Linked DNA regions of Homo sapiens: region 1 is linked to region 2. The links come from fine-mapping of genetic effects on gene expression. A gene starts in region 2. The other region holds a variant in brackets. All regions are shown on one strand. Distances are between the middles of the regions.

Evidence for each region.
Region 1: its variant is fine-mapped to the expression of LRRN2 in thyroid (GTEx, PIP above 0.99).

The regions. Positions count from the first base shown.
Region 1 is chr1:204,647,423-204,656,942 of GRCh38, forward strand. All of the region lies in intron 1 of LRRN2 (leucine rich repeat neuronal 2), which reads right to left. Among named protein-coding and RNA genes, the nearest start is that of LRRN2, 34 kb to the right of the region's middle. RefSeq lists an enhancer at 78-748. The variant G/A (reference allele first, on the strand shown) is at 4,691.
Region 2 is chr1:204,681,596-204,691,115 of GRCh38, forward strand. It overlaps LRRN2 (leucine rich repeat neuronal 2), which reads right to left and starts at 4,143. Exons shown (of 2, transcript NM_201630.2): 1 at 3,725-4,143.

The DNA of each region.
Region 1 (9,520 bases), 34 kb before region 2:
GCCATTCAACAGGGCCAAAAAAGCAGATAGAACTTGAATGTAAATGAGGAACATTTGTCACCTTTGTCTCACCTATTTAAAGGTTTCTTGTCTGACAACAAGGAAAGGGAGAGAGGGAGTGAGGGGAGAGGAGGTGGAGGATGGGCAGGTAAGAAGGTAAGAGGGAAGGGGAGAGAGCACCAACTCCAAAAGAGCCCAAAGGAGAAGGGCTGGTCCCTGAGAGCAGTAGGAAGTGAAAGAGAAGCAAAGCCCAGATGGACGGCTCTGATTTTTATGCGGAGTCACTCTATGACTCAGCAGGAAGGAGCAGTATCAAGAACAAAGACCAGAGCTGTCCAAGGTGGCAGCCCCACATGAGGCCACTGGGTATTTGCAATGTGGCCAGTCCAAATGGAGATGTGCTGGACATGTAAATGTACACCAGCTTTCAAAGATTTAATATGAAAAAAGAATGTGAAACATCTCATTCATGAATTTGTTATTGATTGCATTTTGAAATATTTTTGCTATATTGGGTGAATATGTTATTAACTTCACCTGTTTCTTTTTGCCTTTTTAATGCAGCTTGCATTATATTTCTATTGAACATACATTTCTATATTCTGACAGACTGTGGATTAGAAAGACTTAGGTTCAAATCCCACCTCCACCACTTACTCAGGGACACTTGGAAGGTGAGCCCAGCTACAGCCACTGAAGACAAGATGGGCCAAACCATAGGGAAAGAGCACAGGGTTGGAACAGGATGGGCTGGGGTTGGCAGCATGTGTGGAAACAGACAGTGGGGAAAATGTGAAGAGGAAAATGTCAGAGAGGTGCAGCCAACTGCACCTTCCCACAGTGAGAGAGGGCCTGGGCAGGGTGCAGAAGAAGCTGTAACCTCTCCCAAGGCTGCCCTCACTACTGGGTACATCTCAATGCCAAATCCCAGCATGTCAAGAGTTGGAAGAAGCCTGAAAGAGAATCCAATCCAGGGACCCCAAGAAAATAGGCCCAGAGCCAGGAAATTCCTTCCATGTGCTTTCCACTGCTTCCCCCGCAGCACCTCCAGTTCGTATGTCCACTGAATTGAGGGATGGTATCCAAGAAGCAACCGCTGCATACCAACAATGAGGTCCTCTTGTATGGCCCTGAGAGTTTTATTCAAGGGAGGCTTCACCTGCATGGACTTGTTACCACACAGTTGGTCTTCTAGCCTCGCCCCCCCACCCAACCTACTTTTTGGTTAGGTTGGTTTGATTCATTCATCCATTTATACTCTGCAGCTGTGTGCTGAGAACCAGGCCATGAGCTAGGGATACAGAAATAAATAAGACCCATCCCTGCCCTCCAGGACCACACAGTCTAGTGGTTTTGAAATGTGGAGCTGTTCAGACCACAGCCCCCAACCCTTAAGGTGGTGACCTTCCCCACTTTACAGCTAACTGAGATTACCCAGTGGTGGTGGCAGGCCCAGACAGAGATGGCTCCTGACCAGAACAGAGGCCTTTCCACTAGCCGAGCTGCCTCCACTGGCACATGGAGGGAGAGGCAGCTGCGTGGCGCTGGGATGAGGTCAGGCCAGAGTCATCAGAAGTCAGGTGGATGCACCAAAGCCCAGACCCTGGCTTCAGAAAGTACACCAGGTGAAGGGATTTGTGGAAGGCCACAGAGCAAATCAGCATCAAAGCCAGGACAAGAACTCAGGGTTTCTGATTCCTAACTAAACTCTTCAACCAGTGGCGGCGACTCAAAGAGGTGAATGAGCACAGGGCCAGTCTGCAGCCAGGAGCTGCAGCTGACTCCCTTACCTGCTGCTGCTCAGGATGCAGGGTTGGTTCTCGCCTAAGAGCAACCTGCTGAGGGTCAGGCGCTCTGGGCTGAACAGCCCCACATTCAGAAACCACTAGACTGTGAGGTCCTAGAGGGCAGGGATAGGTCTTATTTATCTCTGTATCCGCAGCTCACGGCCTGGTTCTCAGCACACAGATGCAGTGTGTGAACGAATGGATGTGCACATGAATGAATCAAACCAACCCAACTGGAAACGAGGCTAAGTGGGGGTGGGAGGTGGTAGAAGAACATGGACAGGGTTGCCCGGGATGCTTTATTTTCTTCTTTCCTGCATCCCTGAACATGCCAGGCATTGTGCAGGCAAGAGAGGAAAGCAGTATCCAGGAAAGAAGACAGACAATTAAGCAAGCAATAAGAAGAAACATGAAGGGCCGTGAGTTCCTCCTGGGCCTTGACCCCTGTGTGACCTTGACCAGATCCTTCTCCTCTCCAGGCCTTAATTTGTTTAGAGGAACTGGAGTTAGACTAAATGGTCCAAGGTTCACTTCCCACACTGATCCCCATGACTGGCAGACATGGACGTGAGCCCTCTCCCGGCTGCAGAGAATCATGGCCTCTCCCCACCATGGCAGTAGGGGGTATGGGGAGAGCAAGGCCAGGCAGAGGCAACCTGGCGTGAAGAAGGCAAACAGACACTCCTGGAAGCAGGGTCCCCAGAGACTGTGCAGCCAGAGGTAACTGGCTGTGACAAGGAGTGAGCCAGTAGTCAATTCCATTCAATAAAACTTTGATTACCTATGAGCCTTGTAAACAGGCAGCTCCCCTGTGGGCTGAGCCGGAGGTGCTCTCTTCTTCCCTCCCTCTGTCCTGCCAGCACCTGCCCAGCCTGGCCCTGGGCCCTGTGCCAGCCCAAAAACTTCCTCAGCCTCTGATGCAAGGGGGGCAGCTGAGGGTTAAGTGCCCACTGGCAGGTGAGGGCTCAGGGCCTAGGGGCAGTGGGAGGGGAGGGAGCAGGAATCACTTAGCCCTCATTAGTCCAAATTAAAATCAGGAGTGAGATGACAATTCCAATTTGCAGTGGGCTAATTGTTTTCCCTCAGAAGCTGATCATTTTGCAGACTGGGGAAATTAATTGTTTGAAGTCCCAGGTGCATTGGCTTTGAACCCAGCGCAGGCCAGACAGGCTCTGCCTTTACCTCGTCACCACCCCTCAGGGACACACTCAGCAGTGGCTTCTGCCCTTTGGGATTCTCAGGCAGGGAGAGACTGAGGGTCAGGGGTGAGGGTAGGGGTCCTACTAGTCTTACCCTCAGGTGGGAAGAGGGAAGAACACTGGCAGAGAGGTAGGCTGGGAGATGCCAGCAGCTGGGGCCTGGCATCCAGGAGGGGTTGCTTTGCCTACCTGATGCCACCTGCTCTGCGGAGGGGTGTATGTAGGAAGCCTCCTTGGACCTGCCAGAAGTTCCCACTTCCACTCTGCATCCAAAAGTCCCTGTAAAGTTCACTCACTCATTCAACAAACATCAACAACCCACTGTGTGCCAAGTGTTGCTTCAGGAGGGCTGGGGACACGGCACTGAACAACTCAAACACAATCTCTCCGCTCATGGATTTTACTTGGGGGGATAGATGGACAATAAATGTGTAAGTAGACATCAGAGAGTGGTAGGGGCTCGGAAGGAATGACAGACAGCAGGAGGGATGGGGCTCCAAAGACTCCCACACTCTAATCCCAGAGCCTATGGAATCTGTCACCTTCCAGGGCAGAAGGAATCCTGCAGATGTAATTACGGTTATGAACTTTAAGATTAGAGAATGTCTTGGATTATCTGAGTAGGACAAATCTAGTCACATGAGTCATTAAAGCAGCTTTCTCCAGCAGCAGGCAGAAGAGGGATTCCAAGCGTGCGATGATCTGATATCCTGTTGCTGGTTCTGAGGAAGCTGTGCACAAGGACTGGAAGGCACCATCTAGGAGCCGAGGACCACCCTCAGCTGCCAGCCAGCATGGAAACAGGGACCTCAGTCCTACAGCCACCTGAATGAGCTCAGGAGCGGATCTCCTAGAGTCTTCAGATAGAGTCCAGCTGGCTGGCACCTTGATTTTGGCCTTTTGGAAACCTGGAGCAGAGAAATCGGCTGAGCCAACCCAGACAGACTTCTGGCCGACAGAGCTGTGAGATGGCAAATGTGTGTTTCTTTAAGCTGCTATGTTTGTGGTGATTTGTTATGGCAGCAATAAAAAGCTATTTCAGGAACTAAACAGGGTCAGAGGAGAGTGACTTGGTGCTGTGTTAACTTGGGTGGCCTCTTTGAGGAAGGGACTGACACCTGGATGATGAGGAAGCAGAGTGGGGTGACCAACTTGTCCCCATTTCCCAGTTTCAGCATTTAAGTCCTGCATCCCCCCAAAACCCCCCAGCCCCAGGCAAACCAGATGGCTTGTCACCATATGGCAGAAGGAATGGCCTGGGCAATGGCTTGGGGAATGAGAGCTTTCAGGTGAGTTGTCACAAAAAGCATCCCAAGGGAAGTTCTGTCGGACACAGGAGCAGGTGATGGGGGCTGCTGGGGAATCGCTCAGAAAACTCTTTCAAATGGGGACTGAGCAACTCTAGCTGAGGATAGGTGAGAACTCCCAGCCCTCCTTCCAGAACCCCATCCTCCTGCTGTAGGGCCTAAGAATTACCAGCCCCTGCCTGCCCTGCCCCGAGGCTGCTTCCTTTCTCCCCTGGCCCAACTCCCTTCCCCAGCCGGCCCCTGCCAGGGCCCAGGTGTCTCCCAGTGCCCGGGTACCAGGTGCCTGCTGTGGCTTTCCCCAGTGGGATGCTGGCATTCTGCCAAGCAGCACACAACAGGGGAAATTTTTGAAGCCGTCTTTAATTAGTGAGACAATAGGAGGCTGGGAAGCAGAGAA[G/A]ACAAAGGTTGCGGATGGCTTCACACCCTGTCAAAACAGCGGCTGTGAGCCTGAAGAATGCCTGAGAGAGAAAGGGAGACGGAAAAACGGAGATGGGCCATGGGACCCTTCCCCCTCCTCTCTCCCCTTCGCCCTCTCCTCTTCACCGCCCCCCCCCCGCCCCCCCGCCGCCTTCCTCCTTGCCTCCCTGAACCACAGCTGCAGGCGCCTTGACATTAACCCACCCCTCTCCCGGTTCAGCTGGTCACCTCCCAGCGCTGTTTCGAGTCAGGTAAGAGGCAGCTGTTTAGGAGTTCAGCAAGGAGGCAGAAGAGCAAAGAAGGACCGAGCTAAAGTTTTGGCTCCTTGTCTCATTATCTGGATGATGCCTGGCAAGTTAATTGCTGTGGGTCTCAGTTTTCTCTTCTGTACAATTAGAGTAATAATGCCTACTTTGCAGGGTGGTGGTTGTAAAGATTAGAGATGTCAAAAAGTGCCCCACATGGAGTAGGTACTGGATAAATGGCAGCTATTTCTAATATGAGAGCTTGCACCTCCCATCCTGGATCCCAGCCCTCCAATCCAATATTTCTCAAACTAAGAGCGTGCCCACGAATCACCCAGAGAGCTTGTTAACATGCAAATACCCATCCCACTCCTCAGGGTGGAGCCCGGACACCTGCAGATTGAACAGCTTCCAAGCAGGTGATTCCAATGCAGGCAGCTGGGTCTGCCTCCTGGGAAAAGAGCTAGCCCAGGGCAGTCCTGCAACTGGGTCCATTTCAGAAGCCATTCCCCTACAGATGGAGGGTGCTGGCAGGGAGGTGAGGTCTTGCCTATCCCACCAACTTGCTACCTTCACGTGGGGGTCTGTCCCGGGTGCAGCCTCCACATCTAAGCAAGGTGAGTTGGTCCTCAGGTCAGAGCTTCTGCGGAAGGGACCTCGGTATCCACCTCATTCTGCTTCCTTTTCAATGGAAGAAGCAGAGTCCCACAGCAGGGAAGTGACTAGTATTAGATGGTGCAAAAGTAATTGCGATTTTTGCCATTGAAAGTAACAGCAAAAACCACAATTACTTTTGCACTAGCCTAATATTAATATAAGGGCACACACTGAACTCTGGGCTTCTGATTCTCATCTGCAAGATACAAGTACCCAGCTACAAGATTGCTAGTCCCTCTCAATTCAGAAGTTCTAAGTTTCTCTAGGAGTTGGCTCCACTGACCCCAGGTTGGGAAACCGTGAAGGAAGCCTGAGGCTGATTGCCTTCTTGATCTCTAATCAATTTCTTCACACCTCTCTGATTTCTGGGCCAGGACGGCTGCTTCTCCCTTGCCAAATAATGATAGGCTGACCCTTACTGAACACTTGGTATGAACTAGGAACTGTTCTAAGCACTTTACTTGTATTAACCCATATCAGCCTACAACAACCCTGTGATGCCTTTATCCTCATTTATAAATGGGAATCTAAAATACAGAGATTGGCCCGGGTGCAGTGGCTCATGCCTGTAATCCTAGTGCTCTGGGAGGCAGAGGCAGGAGGATCACTTGAGACCAAGAGTTCAAGACCAGCCTGGGCAACATAGTGAGACTCTGTCTCCACAAAATATTTAAAAAATTAGCCAGGTGTGGTGGTGTGCAACCTTAGTCCCAGCTACTTGGGAGGCTGAGGCAGGAGGATCACTTGAGCCCTGTAGGTCAAGGCTACAGTGAGTTAGGGTAGTACCACTGCACTCCAGCCTGGGCAACAGAGTGAGACCCCATCTCAAAAAAAAAAAAAAAGAAAAACTATTTAGCTGGGCATGGTAGCATGCACCTGTAGTCTCAGCTACTCAGGAGGCTGATGTGGAAGGATCACTTCAGTCTAGGAGTTCGAGGCTGCAGTGAGCCATAATTGTGCCAGTGCACTCCCTCTTTGGTGACAGTGTGAGACCCTGACAAAAAAAAAAAAAAAAAAAAAGGATCTAGAGATTAAGTAACCTGCCTGGGGTCAAACAGCTGAAGCTGGGATTTGAATCTCGGCAGTCTGGCCCCAAAGTCTGTGTGCTTAACCACTGAGGAAGATTGTCCTTGAAGCCATACTTGTAAGTACATGATATACTGCCAACCCAAAGTCAGTAAGGACTGGTGTAAAGCGGACTGGATTAAGAATTAGAAGACCCAATTACCCGAGAAGGGGTACGAGGAGCCTTCTGGGTACTGAAATGTTCAAAGCTGTTCACTGAAGATTTATGGGTTTGAATACTGTAGACAAGTTTAATCTTAATGAAAATCAGAAGGCTTGGGTTTGTCCCAACGGTGGCCTATTTATTAGCTGTGTGACTATTAGCTTGTTAGGCCTTAGTTTTTTCATCTGCAAATCAGAACAATTAGAATGAAAGCCTGCTTTCTTAGTTGATAAGGAAGTTGTACAAAGTTCTTTCTTTGTATAGCAGGTCCCATCCAGCTGTCTTGATCCTTTTTGCATCCCCTGATCAAAAACTCTCCACCAAACTCTCCCTGGCGGTACTCATAGCATATGTGGCTACTTCCATCCTTCCCTGGACCAGAAGCTCTTTGATTCCATCCAAACATCCAAGTCATCCAACTTTGTGCTCATGCAGAAGTGGCACTTGGTAGTTACATCCATCATTGGCATTAACCAGTGCGTGCTGGAACCAGCTTGCCCCAGTCCATGAGAGCTGATGGAGCTCACCTCTTCCCAACTCCACCCTCAATAACATTACATAGTAGGTTGAAATTGGCTGTGATGGAAATACTGAAAACTATGAAAATTGGCAAACACTACAAATCAGGACTTCCCTTCTTGCCACCCCCCCAGCACAACACCCCTGCCATGAACCCAAAATGTTCCTCTCAAGTAGGCCCCAGGAGGTTTATAAGAGCTCTGGGACTACCAGTAGCTGGGGAGCTGTGGTCTGAGTGTAGCTGTTCTGAAACTTTAATGGGTGCAAAAGACATTCTCCATTCTCTAGCCCCTGTGGACATTCCAAGCTCCCCCAGGCCTTGCCTGAAGAAACAGCTGAGTGGCAGTGGGACACAGGTGGCTGGACCCAGCTGAGGTAAGTCCTCCAAGAGTGGAAATGAGGTAAGTTCTCCGACAGCGGAACTGACCACCCCAGCAAGTGGTGCTAAAACCTTGATGGCATCCCTACTTCAGGTCTCACCAAATTTATGCTCTACATTTGGTGGGTTTTGTTTTTGTTTTCTTGAGACAGGGTCTTGCTCTGTCACCCAGGCTGGAGTGCAGTGGCGCGATCTGGGGTCACTGCAGCCCCTGTCTCCCAGGCTCAAGTGATCCTCCCACCTCAGCCTCCCAAGTAGCTGGGACTACTGGCATGTGCCACCATGCCCAGCTAATTTTTTAAAAATGTTTTTGTTTCTTAGAGAAGGGGTCTTACTTATTTCCCAGGCTGATCTTGAACTCCTGGGCTCAAGTGATCTGCCATCCTAGGCCTCCCAAAGTGCTGGGATTACAGGCATGAGCCACCATGCCCAGCCAGGTGAGGTTTTTTTGTTTTTTTTTTTCTCCTCCTTCCTTTCTCTTCCTCTCTACATTCATTCAAGCACCAATTCCATGTATTTTCTCTGCCAGGCACTGGGAATAGATACAAGATGAACAAGATCCAGCCTCTGTCCTGAGGGAGATCTGTACCTAGCAGGGCAGACTGACAGACTCACAAATATGACTGTGGCCCTGGGGGCTGCCGACAGGACAAGGGCACCGAAACGCAGGATAATTGTGTTCAGAGCAGCACAGTGGCCCCCAGAGCTCCACGCTCCATATCTTTCCTTCCCTCCCTTTCCTTCTCTTCTTTTTTCTTTTCTTTTTTGAGACGGAGTCTCGCTCTGTCGCCCAGGCTGGAGTGCAGTGGCGCGATCTCGGCTCACTGCAAGCTCCACCTCCCAGGTTCACGCCATTCTCCTGCCTCAGCCTCCCCAGTAGCTGGGACTACAGGCGCCCGCCACCACGCCCGGCTAATTTTTCGTATTTTTAGTAGAGACGGGGTTTCACCCTGTTAGCCAGGATGGTCTCGATCTCCTGACCTCATGATCTGCCCGCCTCAGCCTCCCAAAGTGCTGGGATTACAGGTGTGAGCCACCACGCCTGGCCCCCCTCTATTCTTTCTTTGTCTCTTCTCTATCTCTGGCCTGCCCTTGGCTGTCTGCATCCACGTGTGTCAAAGATATAGTAACTGGTAGGTACAGTATGACATTCTTATCGAAAAATTAGAAGGTATAGAAAAACATGGAGAAAATTTAAACAATCCCCTTTTCTACCTCCTGGTGCCATAACCACTGTTAACATTTTGATGCATATCTTTTCAGGCTTTTTCTTATGATAGTAAATATTCTTAACAATTTGTCTCTCCCTGAGGTTCATGTCATCTTTCTTGTTTTCCACCTTGTTTTGGTAGAGTACATCTTTTTTGAGTTGCTTTTGAAAAAGAGCTAAGTTTCTTGAAAGTCTGAGTGTTTGAAAATTTTGGCACGAACATTTTTGCAAATGTTTGCATGTCTTTATTGAGCCTCCATATCTGACAGTTTGACTGGAAATATAATTTCAGACTGTAAATAACATTCCCTCACATGTTGGAAGACACAGTTCCATGACCTATTTGCGTCTAGGGCTGCTGTTGAGAAGTCTGCTCTATCCTAAAGCCTGTCTTTTTCTTCCTGGCTTGTGGAATCTTCACTTTATACCTGACATTCTGAAATCTCAAAATGTTGTGTCTTTGTGAGGGTCTCTTCTTCATTAATTGTGCTGGGCACCTAATGGATCCTCGCCATCTGCAAAGTAATCATCTTCATTGAAGGAAACAACATATTTTAAGTCTCCAAGAACTT
Region 2 (9,520 bases):
TTGAAGGCAGGGACATCTGATCTGTCTCTTTGTCCCCTGCACCTAGCACAGAGCCAGGCACACAGTAGGTACTTAGAAAAGATGGGTTGACTGAATAAGCAAATGCCTGATTGAGGCTAACTTGGTGAAATTTCAGCCTCTGAGCTGTAGGCCACGGAGACCCAGGCCCCGCACTGGAAAGTAACAGATAAAGGCATCTTTCTGACTCGTCCTTTCAGCAATCTAATCACATGCTGCTGTCTTTTTTGCATATCTCTTGTCTTCGGTTTTGTTTTGTTGTCTTTTTTAGCTACTTCATTTTTGTCAAAAGTGTTTTTTGTTTCTCAGTTTATCTTCTGCCTTTGTCTTCCTTCTCTTCTGTTCCTTGGTCACTCTCCCCATTCCTGCCCCATTCAAGCCTCCAACTATGGTCCTTGTCCTTCCCTGGAGTCCTTGTAGGCTTGAAAGCTTCTAGTCCCCATCCTTTATCTTGGAGCTTTTATAAAGAGTCCAAGCCATATAGATTAAGAACACAAGTGACATTTATTCATTAGATGGGCCATAGATCAAGCTTCTATATCCTGACCCTGAGTCAATTCTACCTGAATGCAGGTGGGGTGTGGGATGAGGGACTTCCTGCCTACAAGTTGTCACATACCTGTGTAGGATGACACAGGAAAAGTCATTGCCCTCCCTGCCTCCTCATTCAGGGTCCCAGTTCCTTCAGGAAGCCTTCCTTGATCACTTAAGAAAGCTTATTCACACAACCGTTCAGCAAATCCTTATACATATTAATAGTCTAACTGGGAGATAAGGCCCCATGAAAAGTTAGGTTAGAATGTAAGCCTTAGTATAAGTGTACAAGTTACCAGATGTCACAGATATCATAGGGCCAAATCAACTGCAGATACAAGTGATTTCAAAATGGAGATCTATATGACCCGGAGCAAGTGGTTTCTCCTCTCCAGGCCTCAATTTCCTTGGCTAGGAAACAGGGGATGGTAATGCAGACATTAGAAGGTTGTCAGCACGACTGAACAGAATAACTTTTGTAATGTTCCTCACATAGACTGGTGCATAATAGGTATTCAATAATAAATTTGATTCCTTCCCCCTTCTCTGTCTGAAGCACCAGCCTTCTACTTGCCCTGGGCTGCCAGATAAATGGTGAGATGTGACCTGGTCCATCCTTTCAGGTCAGAAAAGTATCCTAAGGACAGGATGACTTAAGCGGTACCTGGCATGTTAGAGGTCACTCAGTGTGATAATTCACTAGCATTGTTCATGTTCCTCACCTCTGCCCCCTCAAGCTGTGGGTCTTTGAACGAGCCTGGTGGGAACAGAGCTAATCAGCTGGCAAGTCCAGATACAAGTGTGGTCAGCTTGAGACATGGAGGTTTGTTTACCGCTGTATCTTCAGCTTCTAAAATCATGAGAGGCACACAGTAGGCACTCAAGAAACAGTTGTTGAATGAATACATTTTTTTAAAAGCCATGGAGTTTCCTTTTCCTTTCAAATAAACGACATAAGGGTGTGGGGAGTAGAAGGGGGAGGTGAGTAAATGACAGGGTTCAAGGGACACCAGGGCCAGGCAAATGCAGCTGCCAGGCCCACCAGCCCAGGCTCCTCTGCAAAAGGGATGCAGCAAAGTCAACAGTGCATGTGCTCCCACTGGCAGGATGAGCAGGAGTGCGTGCACGCCTGGCTTACGGTTTAAGCTGCAGTTTACAGGAGAAGCAGGGCAAAGTGGAGACAGAGCCTGGGAAGAAAGGGAGATATCTGGGGAAGAATGAGGAGGGTGAGAGAAGAGGAAGAGCAGTGTGAGGGGGAAAAGGGAAGTGAAGAGTGTTAGAGGAGGAAAGTGAAGAGTGAAGGAAGGAGAGGAGGATGAGGGGGAGGAGGAAGAGGGGAGGCACAGGGAAAATAGGATGGGAAGTGAGGAAGAACTGTGTTGAATTAGAGAGGGAACCTGCTGTACTAGCCTGGATGGAATTAGCAGATCTCTGAGATCTTACTGCCACTCGGTGTTTCCCCGGGAGGAGACTGCATTAGGGAGAGGGTGTGGATTTGGGGGTGTTCCTAGGTGCCAGACCCTGGGCAGACCTCAATCTCCCAGGCACTGAGGCCTTTAGTTCCATGCTTTGCAAATAATGAGGACCCATCCCAGGACCAGAGAGAGCCCTCCGCAAGAAGGAGAAGCCTGAGTCAGCACAGGGGAAGGAAGAAGGCCTAGGAGGCTCAGATCCCTAGCTCTGCCCTTCTGTTTCCATCGTTTCGCCACAACAGCACCTGGCCAGGAAAGTGGGTCAGGCCACCCACATGTGGCTTTTTCTGGTAGCCACAGGGCCCAAAGGCAAGGGGGCTCCAGTGCCCAGTGCAGAGCCCACCTCTACCCTCCATGCCCAGTGCTCTTTTTTGAAGGGATCTTTAAGAAGCAGTGGGCAATGGGAGGAGCTCCTGGCCTTCTTATTCAGGGACAAAACGCTGGGCCAGAGCCCATCCTAGACTGGCGGGAAAGGGGGGCACGGAGCCTGCCATCGGCCTGGGTGCATGGGGAGACCTACATCTTCCCCTATGACAGTGACCAAACTGGCAGGGAGTCACCTCTACTGCCCTGACCTAGGGAGGCTGTTCTCCTCACCACCCTAGGTCCTGGAGTTCTCAAGCAGAGGGCCTGTCAGTCCATCTCTGGCAACTGAGCGCTGTGCCCAGCCCACCCCCTCCAACCCTGCCAGTCGCCCAGTTAGAAGCTGCGTTGGCTCCAACAGATGGGAGCTGCGGCAGCCTGAGGAACAGAGCACAAAGCCCAGCTGACATTTTCCTTCCTGTTCGTTTGGGTGGGGGAGGAAGGGTAGGGAGCACAGTGCTACCCCCGGGGCCCCTCCCCAGGTTCCGGGTCTCCTGCACCTCTTTAGCTTCTCCGCTCGGCCCCAGATGGAGCTCAGTTCCCTCACCCCGCGGCTCCTCGCCGGCTGGGCAGCCAGAGCCTGCGCCACCCTTTGCCAGCAGGACAGACGGCCCACCTGTGGCTGGCCAGCCCATCCTGTCTCCTGGGTCCTGCGGTGGGCTCAGAGCCACCCTTCCGTTTCCGCTTCCCCCTGACCGAGTCCCCAGGCTGAGCCCCAGGCCGGCCCATCCCCCACCCCAAAGGTCCCATCCCAGGCTGCGGTCGGACCCCAGCCAGCCGGCCCGGGAGGAGCCTAGCTCCTGGTTCCAGATACTTCAGACAGACCCAAGGCCACCTTGTCCCTCCGCACAGACTCGCGAGCTCCAAGGAGGAGAAAGTCCCCAGGCTCTGGAGCGCTTCCAGCCTGCCAGTCCGCCCGTGTCACGCCCTCCCTAACCTCACTGCCACCTCTCGGCTCCTCCACATCTCCAGGGCCCCACTCTACCCAGCAACAGTTTGGGGGAGGTTCTGGCCTCTCCAGGCGAAGGCCCAGGCGCCCTCTCCCTGGCCGCTTCTGGGCATTCTCCAGCCCTCCGTCCCTCTGCCCCTCGGCCGCCTCCCTCTCCCAAGTCTCCGGCTCCCCCGCAGGCGTCTCGGCGGAAGGCAGCGGCCGGCCCTCCTCTGGCCCCCACCCGGGTCAGGCGGAGCTGCGGTGCCGGGGCAGGAGCCAGGAGCCCTGAGGCGGCTGCTCCGGCCGCTCCCGCCGCGTACGCCTCGGCCACGCCAGCGACCTCGGTGTCCACGATTCCCCGGCGGCGGCGGCGCTGCCCAGGTCAGCCCCGAAGCTGCACACTCACCCCGTGGGCGCCGGGCACCGTCTGCCGTCTGCTGCCCGCGCGGCCGCGCTCCGCTCGCCTTCCGCCCGGGGCCGGGCTGGGGACGCTGGTCCGCGCCCTCCCGCCGCGCGCGCCGTCTGCACAGGCCGGGGAGGCTCGGCGGGCGCCCTCCCCAACGTGGAGTTATCCTGGGAGCGGCTCCAGGGCCCAGCCGGTGAGGGCGATGGCAGAATCCCAATCCGTCCCCACCCCCTCTCCGCGCCCTGGGCGCGTCGCGGCCGGAGGCTGGCGGGCGAGAGCCAGGCGCTCCTTGAGAGCGCCGCGCGTTCGCAGGTGCCCGGAGCAGGCCCTCGCGGCGCCCGGCACCCCCTCCACGCGCGCCCCTCTTCCCGGCTTCGCGCTCGCCCTCCTCACTCGCTTCTCCGCCGCTCTCCCAACCTCCCCAGCCCACTCCGGTCGCCTCCTCCCAGTCTGCATGCCACGCCAACCCCCTCCAGTCCCGCTGCCATTTTAACTCCTGAGTGGCCAGAGGCCCCCTCTACCTAACGCACACACACCCGGGAGGAAGGAGTTGGGTGGGGCCAGACGCTAACGCTTGAGCTGTCCTTGTGCCTAGAGACACAAGGCTTGGCTGAGAGAAGGGGCACAGCCCTTGGGTCCGGGAAGAGAAGGGTTGGCTTCTCTCATACTGCCTCGGACCCTCTTGCAAAGGCCAGGAGACGAATGGGGAATTCAGCAGCTTTGTGAGGACAGGTGCAGCTCACAGTCACAGCATGCACCTAAGATCACATTTTTGCTTTGCATGGTGCTACCCTCCCGAAGTTAACAGTGGACTAAGGAATGTAGTGGGGTGGGTGAGAATTTGTCACTGGGCCCAGGCACCTCTCACCCTAAAGAATGGAGTGGAAGACCCCTTTAGTTGTCATGCTTTTCCAGCATTGCATCCTGAGCCGTGCAGCTCTAGCATTCTGGAAGATTCCGTCCTGGCTCTCAATGAAGGAGGTCAATTTCAGTCAGGAACTGGCAGGCCCAGTTAGGGGTTTGGCTTCAGGGTTCCCCACTCTGCCAGCTGGACATCATGAAGACTGGGGGAGGAAAGTAAGAAGGTGCCAAAGGTGGGTGCTAGGCTGCTGCCTGGTGGCTTAGAAAAGCTGGGTGACTGCCACTAGAGGAGGGCAAAGGCCCAATGCCCAACACCCATGCCTTGGTGGGGACTTCAGCCTGGACCACTCAGAACAGACATCACAAACTCGGCTCCATGGCAGGCCACACCCTACTGATGGGTCTGGACCAGAGCCTGCAGAACCAACAACAGGGGAATGGATGAGGTGGAGGCCAAGGTGTGGAGTCCTGTGAGGAGTGGCTTCCCTGGGCTGCCTGCCGTCATCCAGTGCTTGAGCTTCTGGCCCTGTCTTTTCCAAGGGTACAGCCAGTGGTGACTGCCATGCCTGGTGGCTTTTGTGAAGTTGGCTTGAAGGTCTGAGTTCTGTATGCACAGAGGGGATTCTCACCTTCATATATTGAATGAGCACATATTAAGTTCCCACTAAACCACCCCCATGTTCCCACTCTCCACCCCTGCTACGGAGCATAATGGCCTCAAGGAGCTCAGAGTGACAGGTTGGAACTATATGAAACCAATTTTAATATTTCAAGACGATGGAAGTGCCATAGAAATACAAAAAGAAACCACCTTAATGGACTAGCATTATTCACAAAAGGTTTAACGGAGGAGCTGAGTCTCCAACTGAGCCTAGTTGGAGGGATAGGATTTGAACTGGAAGAGAATATGGGGACCAGCAAAGGCAGGAAAGTGGAGACAAGCAGAGTAGAATGGGTTGTCTGGAGGGTAGGGGGCAAGGGAGGAAAATTATAGAGCTACTATTAGATGCCAGCCTTTTCTCATCTCTGTCATCTTAGACTCTGAGTTGACTAATATCCCCTTTTAACAGACCGGGGGATGGAGGCCCAGATCGTTTAAGGCAGTAGCCCAAAATCTGTAGGCAGAATGTGAGACCTCATTTTCACAGTGCGACAATGCCACATTGAGTATACAGGGTGGGAGCAGCTGATGAAGGGCCCGAATTGCCAGGCTCAGCAGTTTATCTGTGGACCCATCCTCAGGTGATTTGGGATGAAAGAGGCAGGAGGATGGGAGACTATTGAGGTAGCTGTTGCAGGAATCTAGGAGGAGGGGAGCAGTGAGAATAGAGTAAATGCATGGGCCTTTGTAAAGAAGACTTGGCAGAACTGTAAGACTGACTGATTGAAAGGGGTCAAAACTTGACTCCAAGCTTTTAGCCTGAGCATTTGAGTCCCTTGTCGAGTCACTGGAGCCACCTTTCCAGTCTAAGGGCCAATGTCAATGTAGACAGGATGATGGTGAAAAGGAGGACATTTTAGGAGTCCTTTACCAACTGCACGACCGGAGAGAGCACTCATGTCAGCACCCCAGCTTCCCAATAACTATGCATACTCAAGTGTCTTATCTCCTAACCAGAGGGTAAGCTTCTGGAGCCTATGACTGTCTTACACCTTAATAAGATAAGACCAGTCCTTTATAGTAGATGTCCAATAACTGATTATTGAAATAATAAATGGGATAAATGCAAGTAACGTTCACTAAGTGGTTGATCCTGAGTGGCAAAGCCTGTGAGATGTACTAGATGAGGCATAAGGGAATTTCATCAGCTGTGAGAAGAAAATAGGGGAAGGCTTATCTTGAGCTGACTCCAAATGTCTTAGAACCCAATGAGATTGGAGAAAGAGTGTAGCTTTTAGAGCTGGAAAGATTTGGATTTGGAACTCTACTTGTCCATTTACTCTGTCTTGCTTCAGGCAAAGTATTGAACTTCCCCAGCTCTGATTCTTTCCTGAGTAACGATATTAATTCAAGTAATAGCAGTTAACATTTATTGAGCACCTACTACATGCAAGGCAAGGTGCTAGCACATTTATGCATCATCTCATCAAAAATTTGACCAATACTAGGACTCTAGTGATAGGAGAAAAACAAGGTTCAGTGTTTACCTAACCAGTATGTAACAGAGCTAAGACGGGAATCCAGGGTCCTCAAATGACAGAGTCCAAACACCAAGCCAAGTCTCCCTAGCACTTCTTTAGGATGAAGATAGCAATAATGGAATGGATTCATACTTATAGGTTGCTGTGAGATGTTACAGGGACTATATGGCTGGCATGAGCACAGTGGCTGGTGCATGGTATGTGGTTGACATTTTTCTCCCAACCCTGCTCCCATTGCTGCCATTCTGAGTCTCATACTTTCCTGGGAAAAGCTGCCCCAATTCACAGTCCTTTGGAAGCTCTTAGGTAATTACCCAGAGGATTTAATGGCCCTGTTATTGACCTTTCACCCTCCAAATTTAATTTCTGGGCTTGGCCATGCATTATTTCCCACCAGGAAGCCTGGAACTCCGTGACATCAGAGTGTCTTGGGAGAGGGATGCAGGGATTACATGCTGCTAGAAATGATCCTTAGCTCAATTCCAGGTGGCTCTCTCATATAGGGGTCAGGATATGGAACTGGTGGGGATGCTGTTTGTGTGGTGGGGGCTGTGAGGAGAGGATGGCTCCTACTGGTGCCTGGCACATGAGCCGAATCAGAGAAGGGAGGCCTGGGATGTGGCATGGGTCACTGAGGGTCCCTCAGTGGACCCTCCACACACACGACACTGTGTGTTGTGTGCAGCCTCTGCTCAGCCTCCTTGGGAGATATGGGGTGGGGTCTGGGGAGTCAATGAGGACTGTTGTCCCCCACCAGTGACCCAACTAGGCAGAGAGTAAGGCACTAGAGCAGTGGACCTTGGAATCACCTGGAGAGTGTGGGCCAATGCAGGTGCTGAGGTCCTACCCCAGAGTCAGATTCTGTAGTTCTCAGAGTCTGCATTTCAGATAAACCATCCAGGGGATTCTGATTCAGGTGGTTGGATGACCTCACTGTGAGACAGACTGGCCTGGGGGTGCCCATTGCTCTCTGACCGTCCCCTGCCCGGGCTCCCCATGTGCAGAGCCTTGTTCTCTGGGCTATTAGAGAACAAGTGAAGGCAGAGGCAGAGGCAGAGGTGAAGGGAATGAAGCTCAAGTTTTAGGGCTTCTCGACTTGCAGGATGGTGGGGAGAGGGTGGGCTATGAAAGCTGGGAACTGTAGAGTGTCCTAGGTGAAGAGGGGAAGCCAGTTTACGAACAGGAAGCATTTTTATGTAAGGATTTCTGGTAAATGGAATGAAGAAATGTCAGGAGAAAGGGACCCTGAATGTCCAAGGCTCATGTAAATTGTTATCTTCTTGCTGGCCGTAAGTAAATATCACTGTTGTACCTAATTTTGTATTTGGAATTTTGCGGGTTTTTTCTTAAGACGGCCCCACAGAACTGGGATCTTCCCTGACCCCTGCCCTCAGGGAGCTCCCAGGATCCACAGACACCCTTGGAACACAGAAAACCGCAAAGGCAGAGAGACACACGTTGCAGATGGCAGAGCTGTGTGGAACTGCAGGGAGTCTTCAAATTTATCTTGGGTTATATTCCTGGAAAAGGCACTGCAGGTAAAAATGATGTAGGTTGAACCTGTTTTTGCCCAGAAACAATGTGATCATAAAAATTACATTCCTCACCAATGTCCCGGTGCCCAACTTTTTATAGGCATAAGCACAAACACCACAGACACCATATTTAATCAACCATAAATGATACACCTCTACTCTGTTTTTTTTTTAAGATGGAGTCTCGCTCTGCCACCCATGCTGGAGTACAGTGGCAAGATCTTGGTTCACTACAACCTCCACCTCCCAGTTTCAAGCGATTTTCCTGCCTCAGCCTCTCGAATAGCTGGGACTACAGGCGCGTGCCACCACGGCCAGCTAATTTTTGCATTTTTAGTAGAAACGGGGTTTCACTATGTAGGCCAGGCTGGTCTCGAACTCCTGACCTCAAGTGATCCACCCGCCTCAGCCTCCCAAAGTGCTGGAATTACAGGTATGAGCCACCACACCCGGCCCTGTATTTCTTTTTCTTTTCTTTTTTTTCCCTGAGATGGAGTCTTGCTCTGTCACCCAGGCTGGAGTGCGGTGGCACGATCTCGGCTCACTGCAACCTCCGCCTCCCGGGCTCAAGCAGTTCTTTTGCCTCAGCCTCCCAAGTAACTGGGATTACAGGCACCTGCCACCACGTCCAACTAATTTTTGTATTTTTAGTAGAGACGGGGTTTCACCATGTTGACCAGCCTGGTCTCGACCTCGTGATCTGCCCACCTCGGCCTCCCAAAGTGTACTCTGTATTTCTTAAATTGGATTTGAGTATCTAAAACAGTTAAACTGGGCAATAACCAAATCCTCTTCTGTTTAACATATTCAGAAGATTCCTGAAGGAAATGCTTTAGGTAGAAGGGACCATGGGAAGGACTGGAGTGACCACCCTTCCCCCATTCAGAACCTGTATGGGCAAAAAGGGAGGCCTCAGAGGTCTGAAGCTGGGGGACAAGGGTTTTGTGCCCCATGGCACATCTGAAAACAGACCAGCCAGCCAGCACCACTTGCAAGTATATCTGGCCTACTCCGAAGTGCATGACTTTTCAGTTAAGGGCTGCCACGCATACACCAAGACTGGGGGACACTTGAGAGGGCTCTAAGAGCTGAAGTTGGAATGCCATTTGGAGTGCTGATTTAGAAAGTCTTTCTGGAGGAGGAAAATCTTGAGAAGATGCTTGAAGGCAGGACAAAATAGTTAGGCTTCCTGAGAGGTCAGTCCCAGGGACTCTCAAGCATCTTTTGAGTTGACTTTTGACCCACCTCACTGAGACCC